Linked DNA regions of Homo sapiens: region 1 is linked to region 2. The links come from fine-mapping of genetic effects on gene expression. A gene starts in region 2. The other region holds a variant in brackets. All regions are shown on one strand. Distances are between the middles of the regions.

Region 1 (5,368 bases), 21 kb before region 2:
CCCACATCCCGGGGCTGGCAGCTGCCTCCTGCCACCAGGCAAACCTCCCACGCACCGCCCTGCCCTGCGGCTCATGGAATGGGGTAAGCCAGCACCAGCCTCCTCCTCCTTCCCCAAGTGCACCACAGTGACCCAGGAGGGCCTGCCAGGGGAGAGCTGGAGGCGGGGGACAGATGGCATCGTGGAGCTGGGCCATGCGCTGTGAACAGAAGAGTAAAAATAATCCCAGACTTGGTTCTCAGGGCCCAGCCCAGGAGCCTCTACTCTGCCTCAGCCCCAACCAAAAGCTACAGGGTAGCCCCCAGGGCAACCCCAGAAGACAGCAGGTTGCTCCATCCTAGGGCCCACAGGTGCTAATTACTCAGGAATTTCCAGAAGGATCAGGAATGTATGGGCTTTTATTAAGATCTCCCTAATACTCAGAACAGTAAGCTCCTCCAAAAACACTTTCAGGACAGGAAGGGAATCAGGATGCTAAGTTCCAAATGGAGAGTCCAAGCCTCAGGGAGGGCAAAGGACCTGCCCCGAGAAAAGGCAGAACCAGACCCCAGGCCAACCTGACGTCCTCTCCCTAGTCCGATCCATCTCACGCTCCCAGAGCCCTCCTTTCAGAGCCTTCTGCAGCCACTGTGATCCCTAAGCCCCTCACAACTCCTCCAGCCTCTAGAGCTGAGACAGAGAATTCAGAAGAAAACACCCTGATTTTGGGGGTCACTGGGCTTCATCTCTCAAAATAAGAAATGGAGAAGTCTCTTCATTTTAAGAGAAATCATCTCTTAAAATGAGACAGGTGAAAGAGGAGCAGCAGACCCCAGCCTTCTTCCAGGTGCATCCCCACTACCCTCCAGCACCCCTGGGCTTCTCACCATCTCCTGAGCCCCAAGTCTGTTCATACTGCTTCCCTGCTTAGGGTGGGCCTCAGTACTAATTTAATTCCTGCCAACAGTCCATCAACTAACTCTTTACTTGAAGTACCTGTTCTTGGACTAAACTCTAGAGAAAAGGGTCCAGACCTTCATGGGGCTCAGACTTCAGATGGGGATGGGAGACTAGACAGACATGCAAACAGGTAAGTGCTATGGAGTGTCAGAGGCTTGGGTGGAGGTAGGTACAGGGCACAAGCGGGTGCAGTGAGAGGCCCCCTCTACCCTGAAGGGTTCCCTGAGCCCCAGTTCCCAGAGGCCCCTGAGCTGCTACACTGATTGCCTGAATGTGCTGTGCTACTCTGGCCAGTCAGTTGTCTGCTGTCTTCCACGCTAACTAAGCTTGGAAACTCAGGAGCTGGAAGACAAAGGGAGGAGGCCAGGGGACCTGGGCGGGAAAGAAGAACCTATCCTGCAGGTAGTGCCGGGTGGGCTGTGCTGCCTCCTCACACAGTGCAAGCCCCTGTGCACTGGGCAGGCGACCCTGCAGGACGGATACAGGCAGCCCAGCACTTGTGGGAGGGCTGAGTGTCAAAGAGGTGCCCTGGACACTGAGGGACACACGTTTTACTACTTTAACACTAGGAGGTGCCAGTTTCAAATGCCCACTCTGCATCAGGCACTGGGCAAAGCACTTGACTACATCTTCCTCCAATCCTGCCCCCATCCCCTTGAGGTAGCTGCACTGCCCCATTTGGCAGGTGAAGATGCTGAGGCTCCTAAGGTGAAGTGCTGTGTCCCAGCCCAAAGCCAGTAAGAGACAAGGCTCAGACTGCGGCTCTGAAGCCCTTCCCCACTGCAAGCTGCCTCCTGCCCATCATGATGCTGCTTTTTTCTTGAGATGGAGTTTCGCTCTTGACCTCAGACATCTGCCCGCCTCGCCCTCCCAAACTGCTGGGATTACAGGCGTGAGTCACTGCGCCTGGCCATGATGCTTCTTTGACCTATTTTGCCAACTTTTTTTTTTTTTAATTGAGACAGAGTCTTGCTCTGTCACCCAGGCTGGAGTACAGTGGAGCGATATGGACTCACTGCAATCTCAGCCTCCTAGGTTCAAGAGATTCTCCTGCCTCAGCCTCCTGAGTAGCTGGAATTACAGGCGTGCACCACCATGCCCAGCTAATTTTTGTTTTTTTAGTAGAGGTGGGGTTTCACCATGTTGGCCAGACTGGTCTCGAGCTCCTGTCCTCAAGTGATCCGCCCGTCTCGGCCTCCCAAAGTGCTGGGATTACAGGCGTAAGCCACCACATCCAGCCTATTTTGCAAACACTTCTGTTGACAATAGGAAGGGGGATGATCTGACTCTGCAGCACGAGGGATGCAAGTTAGATGTGCAGAGTTGGAGGGAGGGGTAGCCTGGATTGGCAGGCTAAGGGAGCTAGAGAAGTTCATCTCTGCAGACACGAAGACCTCTTGGTCTCTTTCGTTGCATGGACCCCACTGTTCCTACGGCCTCCAGTGAAGGTCCCAGCGGAGAGAGGCAGGGTTCCCAGGGTTTGTGTGGAAAGAATCTCGGGGAAGAAAACTGCCCTCCAATGTATAAGTGAGGAGACTAAGGCCCTGAGAGGTGAA[C/G]TGACTTGCCAAAGACCACAAAACCTGTTAAAACTGGGACTAGAACTACATCTCAGGCCTGCACTTTTCTGCCACACAATTCCAACCTCCATGACCATCACTGGATGCCTCTCAGTGAGCACAGGAGAGGGCTTCTTCCCAGGGAGGAGAGGAACAGGCTCCCCTGCCAGAAAGATCTCTCCCTGCTGATTCTCATGCCTAACAACTCAGCACAGGTACTTCAGTCCTTGTGCCCTTCATTCACTCACTGTTCACTGGGCATGTACTATATGACAGGCATTGGGCGCTGCTCTGGTATGAACGTGCCCCTCAAAGTTCGTGGGTTAAAAACTTAATCCCCAACACAAGAATGTTGGGAGATGGAGCCTTTAAGATGTGATTGGGCCTTGCTGAATGGATTAATGCTGTCATCTCAGGAGGGAAGGAGGGAGAGTCATCTATGAAGATGCAAGTACAGTCAATCCTCATTAATCACAGAATAGTCACAGATTTTGTACTTGCAAGTTTGCCAACTTGCTAAAATTTCTAACCCCCAAATCACTACTCCCAGTATCTTCACAGTCATTTGTGGACACATGCGTGCACTGAGCAGCCACAAATTCTCACTGCCTGACGCGCACGCTCCCAGCTGAGGTCGGCAACGCCGCACTTCGTCTACCTGGGTCAGCTCTCCTGCAGGTGTCTTGTTCTGGGTCTATTTAGTGCTGTGACTTCTGCACTTTTGCAGGTGCTTTTGCTGCCTCAAGTGGTCCCAAGCATAGTGCGGAAGTGCTGTCTGCTGTTCCTGAGCACAGAATGTCAAAAGGCACCAGGATAGTCAAAAGGGGAAGCAGCCCAAATGTCCATCAATAGAGGAATGGATAAACAAAATGTGGTGCATCCAGGTAATGGAGGATGATTCGACCTTAAAAAGGAATGAGACCGGGCGCGGTGGCTCACGCCTGTAATCCCAGCACTTTGGGAGGCCGAGGCAGGCAGATCACCTGAGGTCGGGAGCTCGAGACCAGCCTGGCCAACAATGTGAAACCCTGTCTCTACTAAAAATACAAAAATTAGCCGGGCATGGTGGCAGGTGCCTGTAATCCCAGCTACTCGGGAGGTTGAGGCACAAGAATCGCTTGAACCAGGGAGGCGGAGGTTGCAGTGAGCTGAGATCACACTACTGCACTCCAGCCTGGGCAACAGAGTGAGACTCCATCTCCAAAACAAACAAACAAAAAAGGCATGAAATTCTGACATAGGCTACAACATGGATGAACCTTAAGGACATTGCACTAAGTGAAACAAGCCAGTCATGAAAGGACAAATCTCATGTTATTTCACTTCCATGAAGTACTGAGAATATGCAAATCCATAGAGACAGCCGAAGAGAGACTATCAGGGGTTGGGGATGGGGGAATGGGGAGTTTCATTCATAACATTAACAGTCATTGTCAGGCGCAGTGGTTCACACCCGTAATCCCAGCACTCTGGGAGGCCGAGGCAGGTGGATCACCTGAGGTCAGGAGTTCGAGACCAGCCTGGCCAACATGGTGAAACCTGTCTCTACTAAAAAATACAAAAATTAGCCAGGGGCGGTGGCGCAGGCCTATAGTCCCAGCTACTTAGGAGGCTGAGGCACAAAAATCACTTGAACCCCGGAGGCAGCGAGCCAAGATCGCACCACTGCACTCCAGCCTGGGCAATAAAGTGAGTAAAGTGAGACTCCCTCTCAAAACAAAACAAAACAAAAAAAAACAAAAAGACAAAAAAAAAAAACAGGCACTTACTGTTTAACGGGTACAGCGTTTCAGTTTCGGAAGATGAAAAAGTTCTGGAGATGGAAGCAGGAGACTGCAGCACAATTGTGAATGTCCTTAATGCCACCAAACTGCACACTTGGAGTTCAAATGGCAAATTTTATGTTACATATATTTCACCAAAAAAATTGTTTAAAGCGCACCAGGAGATAGAAGACAAAAAGAAGAGGGCAGAGAAGGAAAAGAGGGTCTGCAGGGGACCTGGGCCCGAAATACAGGAGCAAAGGAAAGGGCCTGGTTACAGCTGGAAAAGAAAAGAGAAGGACAGGAGAGTCCCCAGGTCACAGGCAGGTGAGTCCCGAGGGATGGAAGGAAAGGGATTGGTGGAGAAGGAAAGAACCCAGCAGAGAAATGGATTTGGTTGGGCTGGGCCGGGCCAGGCTGTGTACTCAGTTAGAAACAAACAGATCCCATTGTGATTTCGGAAGGGCCAGGGCCTGCCGGAGGCCAAAAAAGGGCCCTTCTCAGAAAACAAGACCAAGAAAACCTAGGTGTCCCAGGGCCTGAGCTCCCACCACTGGAGTGCCTTCCTCTTGCTGAGCAGTGCCCCTTCCTCTCCTGAAATGCAACAAGTTCTCGGGAAAGGCCACGTGAAGTCCGGGACATGTTAAAGACGCCTCAGAGTCCTATGACCTGAGTGAAACCTGCCTCTCACCAGCTACGTTGCACAGCTGTTCAGCAACTTACTGAACCTCCCCAAAGCTTCTGTTTCATCACCTGTCAAATGGGGATGAGCATTCCTGCCTGCAGAGCCACTGAGGATTGAGAAAAGCAAGTAAAGCCCCTGCAAGGCAATGCACGGCAGCACCTTCCCGGCCATCCTTTGGTGTGAGGCCTTCATCACACCTGGCTTCAGGACAGGATGGGGAACGGGGAGCAGGTGAGAGGGGGGGAGGCCCCACAATCCTTCCCAGGCTAAGGAGATGTTGGAACAAAAGTCAGAGAGCTGGACCCCTTGAGCAATGCCTGGTCAAAAGAGAGAGGAAAAAGAAGGGAAGGGGGAAAGGGAGAGAGAGCAGGAAGGGGAGAAAGAGAAAGAGAGAGAGAGACGCCTGGGGCAGAGATTTAGCGTTT
Region 2 (5,368 bases):
ACACCAGGCCGAAGAGGTGAGAGGGTGAGGTGTTTCCCACAAGAACATCCACATCCTCAGGATGGATGGAGGAGCAAGGACGAGAACCCCCAACCCCCGAGACAGTTTCTGGCTCCTTCCTTCCAAGAAGCCCTACACATGATATCCACGTTGAAGCCCTCATGCAACAAGCTACTCATTCCTCTTCTCAAAGGAAGTGCTGAGTGTCTGGCAAGTTGGAAAGAATGAGGGATTCTTCTACTGGGTTACCTGGTCAGCTCCGAGGAGAGTTAAACCAGGAAAAGTAGTTCAGGCTGGTATACCTCCCTGTTTGTCCTTGAGGGCAACTTAAAAGCACTATTTACACAAGTCTCCAGATTCAAAACTGTCTCCTTTTCCCGGGGATCCACCCCGACAAACCTTCCCAAATCTCACCCGCCCATCCCATCCCCCAAAGGCAAAGATCTCAACTTCCTTCAGCCTCCTACCAGCTTTTTGACCTATTCCAGGCAAGCACAAGACCCTCGCCCTGAGAAAGTCAGCCTCCTGGCTCCAAGAGGCAGGTGGAGCCAGCTTCCTTCCAGCTCTGCCCGGTCCAGGGGAAACGGAGCCTGGAGGCCACACACTCCAAAACCACAGTCAAATTATCCCTGCACTCAGGCAACCAGAGACACTGACTCTTGCCCACGGCTATGTAGGGAGGAAGAACAGTCCTAGCCAGAACCAACATCCTCGAAGAGAAACACATACTCAAGAGACGTGGCATCACACACCTACTCAGAGATACTCACTTTCAGACAGCCCCTTCTCACGCAGACATATACACACACTCTGTCACTCACGTTCAACACAAACAAATACGCCCACTGGAAGCCAAGGTGAGCCACACGTGAACAGACATCACCCACACAGAGACTCAAAGCGAGGGGGACTCGCAGTCAGGTGTCACACAGACTCAGCACAGACGCAGTCAGTCCGCGGGGCCTCAAGTGCCTCAGCACAACGGGGGAAATGTTCACTTTGGGGTTTGAAAGTTCTGCTCCCTGGATCGATCCACTAGTCCCCATCAGGAAACACAGCAGCTTCCCAAGCCCTGAGGTGTAGGACCTTTTGCAGGGGTCCCCCGACTTTCGCATCGCCTTTGCACTTAAAACAGGCAGTCCGCTTACCTCCAGGTCTCTCCCTTCCAGGCTCGAAAAGGGCCCAGCAGAAAAGAGGCATGGGTGCTGGGTCTCTTCTGTTGCCGATGCTCTCGGTTCTGCCTCTCCGGTCCTTTCCACACCGGCCTCCCTTTCCCCCAAAGTCCCGAGTGTCCACCCCCCTTACCCGCCCCTGGAGCCGCTTCGCCTCCAGCAGCCTCAGTCGCGCCGCCTCCACGTGCCTCGCTCTTCCCAGTCTCGTCCCGGGAGGGAGCTCCGCACGCACCGCGCAGACTCCTGCCCTCCGGCAAAGTCCTACCAAGTCCCCGCGCCCCAGCCTTACCGGTCCCAGGGTGCGGGAAGGTGGGATGGGTGCGCTAAGCCAGTTCCAAGGAGTCCGCCCCGAGCGCCAACTCTTCCGGCCGCGGCGATCGTTCTGCGGGGACGACAGGGCGTCAGCGCGCAGAGCCGGGCTCCGGCCGGGGCCGACGGGCGGCGCAGTGAAGGCGGGGCCGCGGGGCCAAGCCCACCCCGCGCCGACCGGCCCCGGTGCGCCCAGCGGAGCGGAGCGGAGCGCGCGGAGGGAGGAGTTTTCCCAGAATGGGACTGACGGGAAAACACGGGGATCCCTATTCCTGGAGGAGTGAGTCAACCGGGAGCGAGGAGGGGAGCGCGGGGCGGACAGGAGGGAAGCGGGAGAGGGGCAGCGAGCAGCGCCGGAGCGCGGAGGGAAGCCAGAGGTCGGGACGGAGCGCGTCGGAGCGCAGAGGTCCAAGGCGGGAACGCGGGCGGCGGAAAGAAAAGAGCAGCCGAGCACGCGGCGCGAGCGGTCGGCTGCGGCGGCGTGGGGCGCGCGGCCCGTGAGGGCGCCGGCGGGTGCGGCGGGCGCGGGCGCCTCTCACCTGGCGGGACGCGGCGGCGCCGGAGCTGCGGCCCTCCCGCCCCCTGGCCTCGAGTGTGCGAGGAGGACGCTGGAATGCGCGGAATGAGGGCTGGAATGAGATGCGCGCCGCGGCGGGAGGGAGGGAGCCGGAGGGAGTGGCGGCGGGGCCACCGGCACCTCGGGGAGGAGACTGCGCCGCGCGCGGGCGGGCGAGGGGCCGGGCCGCCGGGGCGGGGCGGGGCCGGGCCGGGCCGGGGCGGGCGGCGGGGGAGGGGGCCGAGGGACGGCGGGGACCCCTCCACCCGGGCCTCGGCTGCGGCCCCCACGCCCACTAGCCCTTCGATCTCTCCGCTCCGACTGTTTGGCTGCTCGTTGCGCGCCCCGCGCCCTCCCCTCCTGGCGGGGTCCCGACTCCCTTTCCCAGGAGCCGAGAGCCTTCCTCTTCGCCGGGGTGGGGCTGTCCCGGGGGCGGGGGGGTGGACGGGGCCCAGACTCCCGCCCCGCCACCCGGCGTCCCTCCGCACGAGTCCCTGGGAGGCCGGGGAAGGGGCGGGCTCCCGGCGCGCAGGAAGGGCTGCTCCCTTCCTGCGGCTCCCACCAAAGGACACTTGCTCCGGGGAACCAGGAAGCAGGAACTCGCGGGCTCCATTCCCAGATCCGCTGCCAGTGCCCCCTCGCTTGCCCTCCCCGGCTTTAGCTCTTTCCGTTTTTCTCTCCTGCCCCTTGGGCATCTGTAAAACCGCCACTACGAGTAAACCACATGGGAGAAAGGGCACTCGGTTTGAAGTCCATGTGGCATGCCATGGGACGCCTTCTGGGCTCAGTGACTCAATGAATATTCATCTAAGATGTGTGATGAGTCCAGATACTGTGAAGATCAGGATCAGCCGTCAGCACCTGCCCTCAAAGAGCTCAGAGTTTAGCTGGGGAGGCCTCGGTGTATACTGCCATCGGTGAGAGTCTGGACTTCAGACACACATGCCCAGGAGTCTCTTATTGGGGCAGGAGGTGCTGGAAACACGCTGGGCTCCTTGTTTGGAGACGCTTAGGACAAACGGGCTTAAAGCAGTGTGCTGGCAGGTAGCGCCATCATCTACCTGGCCAGGAGACTGAAACCAAAGGACTTTTGGCTTTTTCCAAAAATCAAATCCAACCTTTTCTGGGGCATTATCACTTAGCCTTGTGTTGGGTGGTTGTCTAGATCTTATCTCCCTTGCCAAACAGAAACTTCCTTGAAGACAGAGTAATGTCTGATTTATCTTATCTTTCACACAGATCCAGCCTGGTGCCTGGGATAGGGAAGTGCATGATAAATGCTGCATAAATGAAAAACAATTGCTACCGTGGAAGATATTGAAAGGAAAGTGCTATCGATGCCAAAGTTGTTTCCAAGAGAGGTATTCCAAAAGTGTTTCAAGCAATGACTGAGCTAAGCATCCAGTCCTGCAAGGTGAAGGCGTTGAAGACGCAGCCCTCATTTGAATAGATGAATTGTGGTATTCTTGTTAAATAATGAATCATATCAAGGCTTGGTCACACCTCATGCACATGAAAAGACCAAAACGCAAGGCAGCATATCAGCGCCACGTGAAGTACACACTAAGCACCAACTATTTAATTCAGCAATCATGGGGGGCCCGGTGGCTCACGCCTGTCATCTTAGCAATTTGGGAGGCCGAGGCAGGTGGATCGCTTGAGCCCAGGAGTTCGAGATCAGCCTGGGCATCATGGTGGCCTGCACCTGTAGTCCCAGCTACTCAGGAGGCTGAGGTGGGAGGATAGTTTGACCCCAGAAAGTTGAGGCTGCAGTGAGCCGTGAATGCACCACTACACACCAGCCTGGATGACAGAGCGAAACCCTGTCTCAAAGTAATTAATAATAATTATATTAATTCAGCAATCATTGGAGTGTTTGTTGACTTTGACACCGCACTAAGGGAAGGAGTAGGTCCCTTTCCTCAAGTAGTTCCAGTCTAGGTGAGAAGACAGACAATTATGCAAAGTTCAATGGGAACCCAAGGGAAGGAACAGTGAAATCCAATTACAGTGCATTTGATCTAGCTCTTGAGGATAAATGAGGGTTTGCCAAACTGAGACTGGAAACCCCATTTAAGACACATGGAATAGCACCTACAAAGGTGAGGCAGCCAGTCTGCTGGTGTGTTTAGCGAAGCTATGTAAACTGGTGTGGCTGGAGAATAGAGATGTGGATAATAAGATTGAAGGAAGTGGATACCAGACTTTGAAGGTCATTGCGTGCCATGCTGAAGAGTTAGGCATCAAAAAAGACACAAGTGTGACTTAATCAGCAGCACCATCAAGAAGACCGTCTTGCAACAGTCTTGCAGTTGAACTGGAGACTCGGGGTGCCCTAAAACTCAAGCAGTGGTCCTGAGGTTGAGGAGGAGGGGAAGGAGCTAGGAAACGGTTCAGATCATTTGGCTGTGTAGTGAGAGAGAAAACAAAAATCGCTAACCTTTAACAGCTGAACAATGGTTGGTGTCAGTAAGTGAGATAAGAATTCAGGGCTGGGCACAGTGGCTCATACCTGTAATCCCAGCACTTTGGGAGGCTGAGGTGGGTGGATCACGAGGTCAGGAGTTCCAGACCAGCCTGACCAACATGGAGAAACCCCATCTCTACTAAAAATACAATATTAGCTGGGCGTGGTGGTGCATGCCTGTAATCCCAGCTACTCGGGAGGCTGAGGCAGGAGAATCACTTGAACCCAGGAGGTGGAGGTTGCAGTGAGCTGAGATCACGACATTGCACTGCAGCCTGGGCAAAAAGAATGAAACTCCGTCTCAAAAAAAAAAAAAAGAAAGAAAGAAATTCAAGCAAAAGGGGAGTGGGGTGAGGTCGGAGGGGAATCCAGCCAGGTTCAGGGGACGGAGAGGAAAGCAGGACAGAGTCCAGAGTAGAAACAGGAAAGCAACCCTAGTGTCACGGTTAGGGTAGACTGCTGACAACGAACTTGGAGATCTTTATTCCCTCTAAGTCTTAACTATCCAAGACCATCAGTGATCCAAGCTGGGAAGGTGTGTCTTCAGGATCTTGACTTTCTGGCCCATACCCTTATAGTCTCCTGGAGAGCTCTGGAGCTTTGGGGACCTCAGGCTTGGAGCTGTTGAGGAATGTCTAGGTAAAGGAAAGTTAACAGATGTACAAATTCTGAAGAGTTAAAGGCAAGGTGATTTTACCCACACATCAGCCCTTCCCAGGGATGTTTACATTTCTTAAGGGACAGGACCCTAATTCACTGACCCTCAGGAATGAGTCTTTTGGTGGAAATATTTCAGCTGTCTGGATCCTACAAATGGATCCTCACTCAAGCTTGATGATGGACTGTGCAGGAGGAGGAGAGTAA

The links. PIP is the estimated chance that this variant, and not a neighbour inherited with it, causes the effect. A credible set is the group of variants that fine-mapping cannot tell apart.
Region 1: its variant is the best candidate, but not a certain one, in a credible set for the expression of TEAD4 in cerebellar hemisphere (GTEx, PIP 0.84).

The regions. Positions count from the first base shown.
Region 1 is chr12:2,977,262-2,982,629 of GRCh38, reverse strand. All of the region lies in intron 2 of TEAD4 (TEA domain transcription factor 4), which reads right to left. Among named protein-coding and RNA genes, the nearest start is that of TEAD4, 21 kb to the right of the region's middle. RefSeq lists an enhancer at 981-1,600. The variant C/G (reference allele first, on the strand shown) is at 2,496.
Region 2 is chr12:2,956,134-2,961,501 of GRCh38, reverse strand. It overlaps TEAD4 (TEA domain transcription factor 4), which reads right to left and starts at 2,105. Exons shown (of 13, transcript NM_003213.4): 1 at 2,021-2,105; 2 at 1,462-1,554. LOC124902859 (a long non-coding RNA gene) reads left to right here and starts at 1,454. Exons shown (of 2, transcript XR_007063159.1): 1 at 1,454-1,761; 2 at 3,277-3,904. RefSeq lists an enhancer at 1,200-1,935.